2 separate regions of the Homo sapiens genome follow, and region 1 is linked to region 2. A link means that fine-mapping ties the variant in region 2 to the expression of a gene that starts in the linked region. Tissue or cell type: T cells. Region 2 holds a variant in brackets; the other region holds the start of a gene. All regions are shown on one strand. Distances are between the middles of the regions.

What was found. PIP is the estimated chance that this variant, and not a neighbour inherited with it, causes the effect.
Region 1: STK32C starts here. The variant in region 2 is fine-mapped to the expression of STK32C in T cells (TOPMed, PIP 0.95).

Annotation. Positions count from the first base shown.
Region 1 is chr10:132,304,479-132,311,842 of GRCh38, forward strand. STK32C (serine/threonine kinase 32C) reads right to left here and starts at 3,472. Exons shown (of 12, transcript NM_173575.4): 1 at 3,094-3,472. The coding sequence starts at 3,355. RefSeq lists a silencer at 3,296-3,945 and enhancers at 4,198-4,742, 4,743-5,285, 6,927-7,221.
Region 2 is chr10:132,192,226-132,200,218 of GRCh38, forward strand. It overlaps DPYSL4 (dihydropyrimidinase like 4), which reads left to right. Exons shown (of 14, transcript NM_006426.3): 3 at 433-617; 4 at 2,620-2,784; 5 at 4,636-4,697; 6 at 4,796-4,876; 7 at 6,190-6,258; 8 at 6,626-6,746. Among named protein-coding and RNA genes, the nearest start is that of DPYSL4, 9.3 kb to the left of the region's middle. The variant AG/A (reference allele first, on the strand shown) is at 4,706.

The sequences.
Region 1 (7,364 bases), 110 kb after region 2:
AGAGGCTGGCAACATATCGCTGAATCAACAAGCACCTTACGGCAAATTGGCATGCAGAGCAGGATCCCACTTCTGCTAACAAAGAGAGAGTGTTTCTCCACGGCTGTACCTGGGACTGTATTTCCAGAAAAAGGCTGGGAGGTGACACCGTGATCCCAATGCTGAAGTTACAGATACCGTGGCATAAAGTATAGAATGTTTTTAAATGCATACATTTTAATGCTTTCATAATTAGGAAAAAACAAAGGTGTTTCTAATTTTAAGAGATGACTTGAGGAGTCTGGTGGCCCCTGGTCCTGCCTCACTGCCTGCCCGGCCCGGCGCCCAGGGCGGGCCGTCCACAGCCTGCAAGGGCCTGTCCACTCCAGCCTTCCCCAGATGAAGGCAAAGCCCCTCAGGGAGGAGCTACTTCCTGCTGGCGGGCTAATGCCACGTCAGGCTGGAGACTCAATGCTGTGACCCCGAGACGGGCGAGCGCCCCCCAGGTTGCAGAGCTGCTTAGCGGGAAGGTACCGGAGCCTCCTCTCAGGTTCACTTGGTATCACCAGGACACCAAGACAGAGAGGAATGAAGGGGCTCGCCCAACGCCATGCAGCTCTGGTGCAGAGCAGCAGCAGAAAGACCCCCTAACCAAGTTCAACCCCAAAAATGAATTTTTCACCGAAGTCAGAGAAGGGATAGAATGGGAGCATGTGAGGGGCTGAGGGGAAGGAAAACTGGAGACCCTCAGTTCTGGCATGACAAAGACGTGCAGAGAATTCTGTACATGCACCAAATATCTGCCAAATTAGGAAAATGGTTCTGGAGTCCACAAGGATTAAAAGGAACAGAGGACATTTAGTCTTATATGTCGCAACTATGCCTATCAGTTGAAATTTACCTGGCACTTTGTTAAACAGCACTCTTAATTTCTTTTTTCCTTTTCTCTGCATACTAAATTTGATATATTAATTAGGTGTTTTAATCTAAAAAATTCATCGGAAGGTCTAGCATTGCCATAGCAACCGTGCAGATTCAGTAAACTCGAGACACCAACACAGCACCAGGGCCTCCTTAAGCCAGTGCTGCCACGGGGCCACGAAAGTACCAGGCAAATGACTGCACCAACCTGAAAGGGGTGGGACTCAGGGGCAACAGTCCCTTCCTAAAAGACTCTCCTTTCTCCTTCCAAACTGAATCCCTTCCACCAACACGAGTCCCCGGCATCCACACTCAGAGGTGCAGAACATTCTTCTGCAAACCCTGTGCTATGACTCCCAAGTTGTCTGTGCCCTGCCAGTGACAGGAAGAAGCGGAGGGAAGCGGTCACCGCCCAGAGATGTCCTCTGCTATTCGGGCCAGGGCCTAGTCTTGCCCTCCTGATTTCACCACACAAAGCCCAGCTGAGTCCCGGCGGGTGCTCAGTTTGGGGATGTGGCTGCATACCAAGCCATACGGAGCCAGCAGCATCCGTGGGACACCGTCAGCCGAATCTCTGCCGTCCTACTACAGGCAAATACGGTGATGCTGGGGATGTGAAAGAATTCCCAAGTCAGACCGTGAGCCCCACAGACAGACTCTGTGCTTGCTCTTTTTGCCTTTCTAGTGATCCTTGAATTCTGTGACATAACACACTGTGAACACACAGGGAAGTCTACCCTACAAAGCTGAAGGCAGCCCAGTGCCACACCACTGTCTCCACTCCCACCCCCGGAGAGCACGGTGCCGAGACCCAGAAGAGCAGCCAGCTCTTGGCTGACACCAGCAAGTGCTAAACCAGATGCGTTTCTCAGACGTTCTCTCAACCCGCAGCCAGAAACGAGAGGCAAATCTGCCTCCTGATCAGCTCCTAGTTCACTCTGGGCTTTCTTTACTTTGAATATTTATGTTAAAAACAAAAACATTTCTCAAACATTCACCATCGTGAGTTCTGCTGTCCCGAAGTTCAGGACACAGTGACGGGCCACCCTGGAGCGTGTGGGGCCTGGTGTGGCTGGGCCTTCAGCCCTCCTTCTAGGCAGCACACCATGAATCCCCGGTGCCGTCTCCCGGAGGAACGGCGGTGCACGGCCCCACACTCACCAACGCCGGCCTGAGGTCGTATTACTGTAATTTCCCATAATGCTTAAATTATTTATCGCAAGTAAATAGCCTGGCTCCTGAGCGCTGGGCTCTAAAATTTTGAAGGATCCATCATACCTCTGCACGCTATCTATAAATGAAAAATGCACATTTCAAGTATTTTAAGAAAATGTCAAAAAACATGAAATGTGTCATCAATGTACGATTTTAAATGATTTGCATGTTACCTGTAGAAAAGAGCTGTATGTCTGCATGTGACTGTATTACAGTGCCCACAGGCAGACGCGGCACCACATCTCCCTGCAGGTGATAATTCGGGGGTCCCCGGGGCCCCCTGGCACCCCGGGAGGTGTCCCTGCAGGCCTGTCCCATGTCACCTCACCTGCCTTCTCTGCTTTCTATGGCGCCCACGGCTGCACGGTCACTCAGGAGACACCAGTCCCCGGGGTTGGCGGCTTTATCTACAGGACTCAGCAGCGCACTCGTTCCTGGCAGGGCAGGTCTTTGCACAACGGCCTGGCCCTGCCTCCAGCGCACATGGGTGAGCAGAGGATGGACACCGCGCGGTCACCAAGGAGACTGAGCCTCTGAGCGGCCGGGCCCCGCCACCTGTGGGGCAGGAGCCTCACTCGCACTCGGGCGGCACAGGTGAGCGCCTCTCTAACTGCAAAGTACAAACGAGCCCGCACGTGGGCCCGAGCGGATCACGGAAAGCGGAAAGCAGGGCTGCCACGGGCGGTGGGCGGAGGCGCGCGCAAGCCCGGAGACGCCACAGCCGCGGGGGACCCTCGCCCCGAGGGCCCGGGCCCAGCCTGCTCCTCCTGCGGCGCCGCCACTAGAAACGGAGGACGCGGGCGGGCGCCCAGAACTCGCGTGGGGCCGCAGCCACCCGGCGCGAGCTTCTCCGGAAGCCGGGGCGCCCCGGGAAGCCGTCCCGGACACCGGGGGAACCCCTGCGGGAAAAAGCCGCCCAGCCGCGCCCGCCCCTGCAATAGCGCGCGGCCCCCACGTCGTCCCCGTGCCCGCACTCACCGTCCTCCTTGTCGTCAAACACCGGCCTCCGCGCGGTGGCCGCCGACATGGACGAGCCCATCCTCTTCTTCCACTTGCTCCACTGAAACAGGGGGCGCGGCTGCGAGCGGACATCGCCCGAGTCCCGGGCCCGGGGCTGGCCAGCAGCGGGCGGCGGCAGGGCCGAGGGCGCGTCGGAGCCGGCGGGGCGCGCGCGGCCGGGGGGCGGCGAGCCCGGGGACGCCGCGGCGCTGCTGCCCCTGCGCTCGGCGCCACTCCTCATCGCCGGGTCTGGGTGCGCGCGGCAGCCGGAACTCGGGGCATGGCCGGCCGGCAGGGCCGGGAGCGGCAGTGGTAGCGGGAGCGCTCGGGGCCGGCAGCGCCCGCCGTGCGCTCTTCTGGGCGGTGGAACCCGCCCCGTAGATTGCGAGCGCTGGGGGCGGGGCAGGGGCGGGGCTTCTGGAAGGGGCGGGGGCGGGGCGGAGCTCCTGGAAGGGGTCGAGGCGGAGCTGAGCGCCGGGGCGTGGCAGGTGCGGAGCTTCGGGAAGGGTAGGGGCGGGGCCGAGCCGGGGGCGGGGCAGGGGCGGGGCTAGTGCCTGGAGTGTCGCTAGGGAGTGGGTGGCCGCCACCAGTCTAGGGATGGGGGCTGTGGTTCGCCGGGACACGGGGACCACGGCTCAGACTAGACGGCGGGTACGAGAGCGAGGGAGGCAGGGAGCGTCCCCACGGGTATCCTGGGGCCCCGGAGGTCGGCGTCCCTGGCACGGGGACTGCTGTGCCCGGCACGGCGGCGGGACCTTCTCGCGGTCTCCGGGGGCCTCCCTCCCCTGCCTTCTTCGTGAAAACAGCCGGCGCGCGGGCTTCCGCCGCCCAGTGCGGGGAGCCCTAAACTCCAGCCTTCTGCTTTGCGCAGGGTGAGGCCGGGCTGCAGGCCCGGGATGCGGGCGGCGGGAATCTGCCGGGCAGAGCCCGGCTCACGGTCAGGAGGCGGCAGGCTGAGTCCAAGCGCTGCGCCAGAGGGTGGGGTGGGGCAGGGCGGGCCTGGCTGCGCGCGCGCACACGCGGGCGCCTGGGGTGGGCGCTAAGCCCTGAGCACGTGCGCCCGCGCTCTCGGGCACCCCCGTGCCATCCTCGCGACCCCCGTCCGGCCTGAGACCGCGTGCCCGAGTCGCCCAGGGTCCCCTTGTCCAGATGCGACAGGGGCCTCGGCACTCGGCGTATTTCGGAGGCCTGGGGCGCGGCTTGACCTCCGGGCACCTCTGCCCCTGCGCAGGGCCAGGCGCGACCTTGCGCGGAAAGTGCTGGGCGCCTTGGAGTGCCCTGGAGAAGGCGCGGCTCTGCATGGAGCCTCGCCGCCTGCCCCTGGCGCTTGTCACTGAAGAATCAGTTTTTGCTACCGGGCTGTTTGACTTTAGGAAGCCTTTACCTCCTTAAGTTCTGCCCTGTAACCAGGACACAAAGACGGGGTCTCTTCCTCCTCGGTGAAATCCTAGATGGGATTTCCTGCTGCCCGCCCGGACGATGAGCGGATCCCCAACATGGCTCCAAGGCCAGTGTCTCCCGCTCCCGTCCCTCCCACCGCACACAACTGTCTACCCTGTCATTCAGCCACTGTGAGCCCTGCCTCCCCACGGCCTTTGACATTCAGTGTGGCCGCCCGCCCTAACCGCCTGATGCATGAAATGTGAGCACGGGAAGTCTGTGTGGCTTCTGGGCCAACAGGAGCCCCCATCCCTTGGGGACTATAAGGAATGGAACCATGCCCATCTACCTAGGACATGCACCCGCCTGGACATGCACCCGCCTGGACATGCACCCGCCTAGGACATGCACCCACCTGGACATGCACCCGCTTAGGACACATGGCATGCATTTCACTACTGAGATTTAGAGGGTATTTTTATGGCAGCATAACCTAGGTTACCTGACCAACCAGCCACCGCAGCTCTCCCTGCCTGGCTAGCACAAACGCATCGGTCTCTAACTTCCAGTGCACAGAGCCGAGTTTTCAGCCCTTGCAGCTGCGAAGCTCTGTTCCCTGCTCTCCCTCAAAGTTGCCATTCTCCAGCAGGCACGCAGAAGGCAGTGGGTTCAGCACCTGCCTCAGAGGAAGCCCTCGGTGCCCATCCCAGCAGGAGTGGTGAAGGAGCGTTTGGAAGGGGAGGTACCAAGGCAGGGCAGTGCCTGGAACCCTGCGTACCCGGTGCACACATCAGACTCCCCAGGGCTCCTCCCAAAACACGCAGCCTCTGAACTTACATCATCGCCTCTCCTCCTCTCCCTCTGACCCCTAAAAGTGGCAGAAAAGGAATAAAAGATATAACGTCCCCACCACCACCTAAGAGGGAACAGGAGAAGGGAAGACATGTTAATAGACTTCAGACAGCAGGTAGAAAGCTGACTCTGAAGATTGGAGAGGCTGAGGACCTGCAGGTAACCAGGACCCCAAAAGGCGGGAGAATGTGAATACAGCCAGAGCCCAGGACGCCTCCCCGGCCCGGGCAGTTGGGGATGGACAGTCCTCTGGTCTGAGGGTCCAAAGGGGCTCTTGACCTAGGGATACCAAGTCCTGCAGAAGACAAGAGTGCAGGGGGGCAGAGGGGTTCATGGGGACATCTGCACACTTAACTAGGAGACCCTCCAACCTCACCCTTGCTGTGAGCCTCAAACACCAAGCCAGGCACCTGCCTCTCAGTCAGGAAACAGGAAGGATCTGTAGGGAAACAGCAGCTCCCAAAAGAATGCCGGGTCCTAAGATTTGGCCAGTGCAGATCAGCCCTGGAGGGGCCTGTGGGCTCAGGGCACAACTCTTGTACTGTCCAGGTGCAACTCTTGTACTGTCCAGCCACGGCTCAGGGTCCAGGCAAACACAAGACTGAGCGTTAAGAGGTGCACAGTGTAGGCATGAGACAGGAGGGGTCAGGAACTGCTGTCCCCAAGAGGATGCCAACCCCTGGTGCCTCATGGGAGGTAGCTCTGAAGTTCTAGGGGGATGCTGGGAGGGACTGAGGCTGGGACAGAGTCAGCTGTGGATGGGAAGGGGCAGTGAGGCCAGTAGAGAATTCCTGAGTTCCCCTGTGTGCCCATGCTGCCCGGGAACGTCAACTTCATTAGGGCAGCGATGGTGTCTGCCCCTTCCAATGACAGGAGACCAAGTGACAATGTGACAGATAAATGCATTCAGTGCACTGACGTCTAGCACGCAGGAGCACACAGGAAGGCACATGGCTGGGCAGCACGTGCATGATCGTGGGACCACTTTAGCTTGGGTAGTCCAGCATGAGTCTCTGAGCAGGTGACCTTGATGCTGAGGCCGGAGCATGAACGAGTAGCCCAAGGGAGGCCAGGTGTCCGGGTTCCAACAGCAGGAGCTGGCCCTAAGGTAGAAACCGGCTTGTGCGGGAGGACAGGAGGGTCCATGCTGCAGGACAGCAAGTGAGTGGCCGTGGCATGTGCTGAAGGGCTGGGGGTGGTTTGGGGGACAAGGTGCAGTCCCTGACACCAGGCTTCATGTGCATTTGTTCATAATTCGTCCATAAAGCCACGCCTCCTGAGGGACATGCCTTGGACATGGGTCCTCCGTTGCCACATAATTGGCACACAGCTCAGTCACACCGAGATGTGTGCTTCATCTTCTGTCATCATTATGAAATTAACACATGCTCTGCCCACGCCTTTGTTAAGAGTCCTTTTATTAAATCTCCTCAGATCACACGATTCGTGTGTGCTGTTTCCTGCTGGAAAACACATCTCAGAACTGACCCCCAAAACAGGAAATGGGCTCCCATGGGACTCCGATGCTGGTGTCCACCTATGTGGAGAATCCACGGACAGCCTCCCTCCTGGGAAATGGAAGACAGATGGCCGTGGCGCCCTCAGATTCAGCCCTGGCGGGGCCTGGGACTGAGGATTCTTGGAAGGCCAGGGCCTTGGAGCCCACGTGTGGGGACACTTGGTTGCTATGGTGACAGTATTGATTTTAAAGGTCATGTGGCCACCTGGTGACTCAGGAAGGAGCACAGCGACGGAGAACATGCAGGACGGGCTGCAGCCACTAGGAAGGAGCCCTCGCCCCCACTGCAGTGCGCCGGGGCCGAGCATGAGTTCACCGCTCAGCTCTGCTTAAGGACCCACAACCCCAGCCCCTGCTGCCACCATCATCACGTTGCCTTTTCATCTGTCTACTCCGCCCTTTTCTTCCTCTATAAGGACACTTGTCATTGGACTTAGGGCCCACCCTACTCCAGGATGATATCATCTTGAGATCCTTAACTTAGTTACATCTGCAAAGA
Region 2 (7,993 bases):
TGGGTGGCTGTGGGCGAAAGCAGGACACCAGCTTCCACGTTTCTTTGTTCATCGCAGCACTTAGTATGGTGCCTGGCTCATAGCAGGTGCTTCCTAAATACTGGTGCCCACATCTATTAGCGCACCTGCTTCCGTTTGTCAAGCTGCTCCGTCCTCTAGTCAAAAAAGTACCAACCAGGGACCTGAGTGGAAAACCACAGGGCGTGGCGTCTGCGTGAGGCTGGACCCTGCAGTGACCGTCCTGAGCTGCGCTGAGTGATGCTTTGCTCCCTGGCACTCCCGAGGAGCTAGTCCAGTGAGTGGCCGGCCGTGCTGGCCTTTTCCTCGGGGTCTGGAGCTCATGCAAACCCTTTAGCTCTGCTGCATTGCTGGGAGCCCATCTGGGCTCTGACCTGGGCTCCCTGTAACCAGTGAAATCTCTGCTGCTTTCAGACAAATCGGAGAAAACCTCATCGTCCCTGGGGGCATCAAGACCATTGACGCCCACGGCCTGATGGTCCTTCCTGGTGGCGTTGACGTCCACACAAGGCTGCAGATGCCTGTCCTGGGCATGACACCGGCTGACGACTTCTGTCAGGGCACCAAGGCAGCGCTAGCAGGAGGAACCACCATGATCTGTGAGTGTCTGGGTCTCCTCCTCTACAGGGGGCAGCCAGCGTCTGCTGCCCCTCTCTCTGGCCAGGTGTGTGTGGGAGGAGGAGTGTCGCCTAAAGGTGCCTTTCTCAGCTGTCTGCCTTTATTGCATCTGTCTGAGAACCTGGAGTGCTTTTCTAATCCCTGTGTCTCACTCTGGGTGTTTCTGTGTGGCCAGTGCTGGAATGCTCCTGGGATTTCCAGGACTGGAAATCAGTGACTGACGTGTGTCCACTTGTTCTTCCCTGGGCACTAGTAGCCAGCTCGGAGTTGGGGGTTGGAAAACTCAAATGCCTTGGGCGAGGGGAGGGGTCATGCTGTCTGAAATGCCAGATACATGTTTGACCTTGAGCCACATGCCTCGGAAGCTTCATATCTGGAAGGTTCTTGCTCATGTCAAGAAGAGTTAAGGATGGAGACTGTATTTTTAGAAAAAGATAAAAGCAATGCTCATTATTATCCCATCAAAAAATAACCCGAGTTGCTATTTCTGTAGTGCTGGCTGCGTGCCCGGCACGGGCTCTATCCTGACACCCATCGGCTCACATGCTCTCCTCCTAAAACCCTCTGAGCTCAGCCCAGCTGGGCTCAGCTAAGCCTAGTTTAACAGGTGGGTGAGTGGAGTCCGCCTGCCCACCACGAGCACGTGGTGAGCTCAGGAGGCAGGACGAGGCCTCAGAGCCTAGACCTTGACTGCACTGTGTGGCCTTGGGTGCCATTCACTCTGCGGCGTCCGTCTGGCACAGACATCGCTGCTGTGGTTGAGAACGGGTCTGAGGAGCCTAGCTGAACCTGGTTGTATGGTTTTCTAGCTGTGTGACTCCAGATAAACTCAGCTGGCTTTTATAAGTCACACTTTGTTGATCTGTAAAACAGAACACTGGCCTCATGAGCTTCTGAGGCATGTGTGAGTTAATGCACGTCAGTTGCTTTGTGTCCCTGGCACACCGGGGAGGGCAGCTCTGAGGACCCTGAAACACCTCGCGGGACATTTAGCCATTACCAAATCACAGCTTGGTTTGGTTTACTCAGCCACAAAGGGAGAAAACACCAGCAGCAGCCCATCTTGCAGTCTGAGGAGACTGGCCACTGCTCGCGCCCTTCAGGGGGCGGCCCAAGCCGGTCAGGACGTCTGCACAGTCGAGACCACCTGCCTCGTGCCAGTGCCAAGGCACCCGGCCAGCTGTGGGTCCCCGCGAAGACAGAGAAACACCACAGACACGAGGCTGGCCTCTATCCTGCCTCTGTCTTCCTCGGCCTGCAGGCCCAGGCTGGCACTGTGGGTGGCTGCAGGGAGGCTGGGTGCCCACTTCATCTTGTTGGGATGAGTAGGGGCCCGAGGGAGGGCTGTGCTGGAGGAAGGCATCCCTGGCGGGTGCGCCCTCCTGTCCGACCACCTGGCTTGGAGCTGTGTCTGGCTGCACCAGGAGAGGCCAGTGAGCAGTGTTCGGGCCTTGGGTGTGTGGTTGGTGGGGCAGCAGCATGATGGCTGTGTGCAGGGGGCAGGATGGCCCCTTTCAAGTCTTGTGGGGCACTCGGGAAACCAGCCCAGCTCCCACTGTTCTAGGAAGGCACCCAGAGGTGGGGCCCAGCACCTTGGACAGCGCACTGGCCCAGCCTGGCCCTCGGGGTGCCTCACCCAGCCTGACAGGAGCTGGAGGCAGGGCAAAGCCCCGACCTCCTGTGCTCCTCCAAGTGCGATGTGGGAGTAGGGATGGTTTGGGGTGGGGCTTTTCCTTTCTCCCCTCTCCCTTCTGTGCTCAGAGGGTGGCTGGGGCACTTGGGACAGAAGGTTCCTCTTTGAACAAAGCAATAGAACGGGTTCGTGGCAGCGTCATCCTCTCTCAGGGGCCGGTGGCCTCTGCTGTGTCTCCCTCAAATGGTCCTCTGGTCTCTTGGGAACATGAAACAGAATCTCCCATGGAGGAGGCAGAGGTGGGAACCAGGGACCAGTGGGGGAAGCTGCTGACCATGCTGCCTTCACAGTGGACCACGTCTTCCCCGACACGGGTGTGAGCCTGCTGGCGGCCTACGAGCAGTGGCGGGAGCGGGCGGACAGCGCGGCCTGCTGCGACTACTCCCTGCACGTGGACATCACCCGATGGCATGAGAGCATCAAGGAGGAGCTGGAGGCCCTGGTCAAGGAGAAGGGTGAGGGTGGCTGGAGGGGCTGGAGGGCGGGCATGGAGCCTGGTGGAGGAGCCTCTGCCCTGACCCTGTGTTCTGCCGATGGTGCTGCTCTGCCCTGGGGGCTGGTGTCCAGGTTTGAGTGGAAGTTGGAGAAAAGTCATTTGAAGGCCCATCCCACCTTCAAAGGCTCTAGACCAAGAGGCCTTCTCTTTCCCAATCCGAGGGACCCATCCTGGAATTGTCCTCCTGATGAAAAGATGCAGCAGATCCGTCGTTTCTTAGAAGAGAGGCTGCCCAGGGTGGAAGAGCAGCAGTTCCCCAGTCTCCTAGCATCTGGGGATCCTTTCAGAGGGAGACCCTTTTAAATCCATATCTCTTTGTTGTCACCAATGCTAAAACAGATCAGTCTATAAACAAGTTAACATTTTTCCCCACAAAAAACCCTGAAGCTAAAACTACATCAGAGTTTCATAGTGGGTTTGACAAGTGGCATATCTGATTATAGCCGATCTCTCCTAATCTGAGTCCGGCCCACAGCTTCCAGCCTGGAGGTGGGGGCGGGATGGGGTCCAAGCAAGCCCAGGAGCCTGTCAAGGCCCTGGCACTCCCAGGGATGCCTGCTACCCGTCCCCTACAGACCTGAAGGAGGCAGGGGCATTTCTTCAAGGCCATTCCTCTGGGTTCCCATTCCTCAGAGGGTGACGGTCATCACATAGGTGCCCCTTGATGTCAGGACCCCTCACCTCCCTGCCCGGGGGCTGGTGGAGCCCGTCAATCCTCAGTCCCTGGGCCTCACTCCAGGCAGCTGCTCTGCCACCCATGCTGTTCTGTGAGTGGACTCGGGAGGCCTGTGGCCTCGTGTCTCAGAGCGGAGGTGGAAGCAGGGCCTGCACCTCCCCTCACCCTGTGTTGGCAGTGCTGGGGCCTCTGCTCCCCAAGAGCCATGCAGGAGTCCTCAGTCCTGTGCCCACGGGGTAGTGTTGCAGGGACAGCACTGCGCAACCCAAACATGACCTTCCTCAGACACTCGGGGGCAGGCCTCAAACTCCAGGTCACATACAGGTTGCTACCTGGAGGGATGGCTTGTGGGGCACAGTGTGACTCAGTTTCCCCAGTGTGCCTTAGCTTGTCACACTAGCACTTTCCACCCAGCGAGGAGGAGATGCCATGGGTTGGGTGGGCTTGAGTGATGGGAGGTTGGGATCCTGCCTCCAGGCCCAGGCCGGTCCCCACACAAGTTCCGAGTCCTGGGGGAGGTGGATGGGCTGTGGCTGCCCAGGAAACAGGAGAGCTCAGCCCTCTTCCTGTTTGGGCCCCAACGTCAGAGGCAGCCCCTCATCCTTCTGCTCGTCCTAAGGGCCCAGCCCTGAGATCTGGGTGGTCCCACAAGCCTGCACTGTGAGCCAGGCATGGCAAGTGGGGCTCCAAGGCCCTGCAGGCAGGTGCTGGATGTGCTGGACGGCCAGAATGCAGGTCCCCAGCACAGCGCGGCCCTGGCCGCACTTCCAGGAGGGAGCCAGTGGAACCCAGGCCGAGAGCCCAGGCACAGCGGCTCTTCCAGTAACGGGGGGTCTGCTGGATGGGTGTGAGGGGTTCTCACCTGCATTTGCCGCTGGGTGGACAATCAGTTCCTAACCCGGAGCACAGGAGCAGGCAAGGAGGGCCTGGATGTAGCTGCCTCCGCCTCACTTCCCAGCTTGCTGGTGTGTGCATGGAAGCGGGGGACTGCTCCCAGGGCTGGCAAGCCAGTGAGGGAAGCACTGCGGGGGAGGGGCCCAAGACCCCCAACCCTCCAGTGGGCAGGAGCAGCAGAGGCTCCGTAGGTTGTCTGACTGGTGATGGCTGAGCCTCTGACCCCTGCCTCTTCTCCAGGTGTGAACTCCTTCCTGGTCTTCATGGCATACAAGGACCGGTGCCAGTGCAGCGACAGCCAGGTAAGGGC[AG/A]GCGTGGGGAACGGAGTGGGCAGGTATATCCCAGGCCGCTGCTGGTGCAGGCGCAGCCCCACCCAGGACGCCACCACTTCTCTTCCCAGATGTACGAGATCTTCAGCATCATCCGGGACCTGGGGGCCTTGGCCCAGGTGCACGCTGAGAACGGGGACATCGTGGAGGAGGTGCCGTGGGGCAGGGCTGCCGTGGGGCAGGCACAGGGGCTGCCGTGGGGCAGGGGCTGCCTGTGGGGTGGGGCAGGGGTCTGAGGGTGACTTTCATGATACGCAGACATCAGCACAGAATCCCACAAAACCTTGAGGGAGGGTCATAGCTTACCCCGAGTCAAAGGTCAACCAGTGAGTTAGAGAGACTGGGGGGTGATGGGGAGCTTTGAGGCCATAAAACAGCTTCTCCTTGATCAACACTTCTTATCCAAAATACCTCAAAAGCAAAGTGTCAGCCCCAGGGATCGAGGCCCCTCCTGTGGAGCGGGGTACCCGCTGGGGGTTGGGTTACCACCTTCCTTCCAGCCAAGGGCACCCATGTTGACAGGGCCACATCCTTCAGACACATCCCACCGGGCTGGGGAGGGCCTGAGCCCGCGTGCAGTGGCGCCGACCCCCCAGGCCCTTGGGGCTGAGGCAACCTTGGCCCTGCACCTTGTTTTCCCCTCTAGCAGAGGCACCCACAGGTACAGATGGAGTTCAGAGAGTGGGCCACCCCATACCCGTGGGACCTCAGTGGGGGTCACCACACAGGACACACCTCCCTGACACTGCAAACCCACAGTGAGACTTCGTGGGACGGGACGGGCTCTGCCCACCTCCTGAGCTCTACAGGAAGGTGGTGGCACTCGGGCAGGGGCATGTGGGGGGTCCCCAGTGTCCTCGTCCACCCGTCCAGCTGTGAGGGCATCGGGGCATCACAAACACTTCTGTGGCCCAAGGCCAGGCCCCGGCTGCACCGTCAGGAGGTTGTCCTGGGTCTAGGGATGCTCCACATACAGCGGGAGGGAGCCTCAGTATTGGGGCTGCTGCTTCTGGCCGGTACCATGTCTTCCCTGACACGAGCGGATGCCGTAGTGCAAATCTGCACGGAAAGGCAGTGCTGGAGGAAGGAGTGGTCGTCCATTCCTGACCTGCAGAGCCCTCCCTGCCTGTGCACACCCCCACACATGCCCCCGCTGGGGGAGGCAGCGTGATGGGCATAGTGGTGGGAGGGTGGGGTCTTGGTGCCATCAGTCAGGAGCCCTGCAGCCTTGGGGGAGCCACTTTCCCCTATCCGAGCTGTCCCCTCCTTGGTAACTCAGGGAGCAGGAATCACACCTCTCCAAGCCCCTCTGCCCTCTATTCTGAGTGTTCTGTGGCTGGGAAATTCTGGGAGGCCTGGGGGTCCAGGACCACTTGGGGAATGGGGCCTCCCAGCCTTGGGCTTAGCATCCAAGGCCCAGGCTCCCTTCAGGGCTTGGAGCGAGGCATCCTGTTGGTTTCTTTAGGAGCAGAAGCGGTTGCTGGAGCTCGGCATCACTGGCCCCGAGGGCCACGTGCTCAGCCACCCCGAGGAGGTAAGATCCCAGGGCACCACAGCACACCCGAGCCAACTCCGCCCAGACCACTGCTGCCTGGGGCTGTGCTGACCCTGGCCCTGGGCTCCTGGCCCTGCCACTGTGCTCGCCCCGACCTCATCTGGGAGGCGTGAATCCTCCCCGTGCCAGGCACTTGTCCTCCATCCCCCCACAACCCTACAGCCTGTACCCGAGGCCCAGAAGGTGGCGTGGGCAGGCCCAGGCACTGAGCCCGAGGCTGGGCCGCTCCTACTAGGCTGCCCTGAGCCTGGGATCCCATGGGTGACACCTGGGCATCCCCATTGCCCACACTGGTCTGGAGCCCCAGGGCCCTCGTGTGGCCTCATCCCTCTCATCTCGTCCCCAGGTGGAGGCTGAGGCGGTGTACCGAGCTGTCACCATCGCCAAGCAGGCAAACTGCCCGCTGTACGTCACCAAGGTGATGAGCAAGGGGGCGGCCGACGCCATCGCTCAGGCCAAGCGCAGAGGTGAGCACCCAGCCCCGCCTCTGATGCCGAGGGGCCATGGTCTCGGCCTCCTGGGTGCAGCCCTGGGGAGATGCAGGTTCCCTGAGTCCCTGCATCGGGGCGGGGCACTGGACCCTGAGTCCCTGCATCGGGGTGGGGCACTGGACCCTGAGTCCCTGCATCGGGGCAGGGGCTGGACCTGAGTTTCCAGCCTTGCTGGAGCAGCAGCTGCTCACCAGGGGCCCTGAGGCAAAACATGGGGACGCTCATCCCATTTCCAGTGGGGGTGGGTGTGGGGAGAATGGAATGATGAGGAGGGTCTCCAAGAGAGAATTCCAGTTCCAACAAGGAGGCCCTCCCTACATTGCTATTTGCTGTGTCCAGAGCCGGGGTGCTACCTGCCCACAGAATGCCAGCCAGCTGGAGCCTGGCACTGCAGAGAGCCTCAGGCCTGGGCGGGGGGGTGCCACCCAGAGCTGTGATTGGCAGCGGCTTGACTGTGGTGTCCCCCAGAGGCTACTGGGCTCAGAGGGTCCATGGAGCCCCAGCAATCACTGGGGCTGGAGAGGGCCAAGGATCCAGGCACAGAACCCAGGTGACGGGTAAATGAGGGGGCATCCCCTAGGCGGCCTCTGGATCTGGTCTGGTTTCCCCTCCTCCTGCTGTCCGCACTGAGTCCTGAGAGACCTCGTTTTCTGGGCCTGCCTGGGGCTGTGCAGGTCCCTGGGCAGGGTGGGGGGCGGGGTGGTGGTGGTGGTGGGTGGTGCCCTTCTATGTGTTTCCTGCATCGAGGGTTGAAACTGAAACCCACTCAGTTAACTGGGAAAAGGACTCTGAGGCGTGCAGGTGAATGGGGGTCTGCAGGGGTGAGGCCCGGGCCTCACTCAGGACACCAAGCAGCCTCGGGGCAGCAGGCCAGGCCCTTCTCAGGGGTACCCCACCCGCCAGGCTCTTCTCGGGGGGTGCCCCACCCCACCTGGGAGCATTTCTCCCCCACCCACTGGTGGGAGCTGCCTCAGCTGTGAGCTGGAACCCTGGTGAGGCCATGGCCAGGGCACCCCCGGCCAGTCAGCCGCCATGCAGTTCACTGTGCCTCGCAGCCCACAGGCACGCCCTGGCCCCGCTGGAGTGCCCGGGGTCCTGGGGTGGGGTGTGGGCAGAGAGAGGACTTGGCGTCCGCAGGCCAGACTCCCTTTCCCAGAAGGACCCCCAGGGCCAACCACGTCTGCCCGCGACCCAGGCCTCTGCCCCACTTCCTGCCCAGGGCC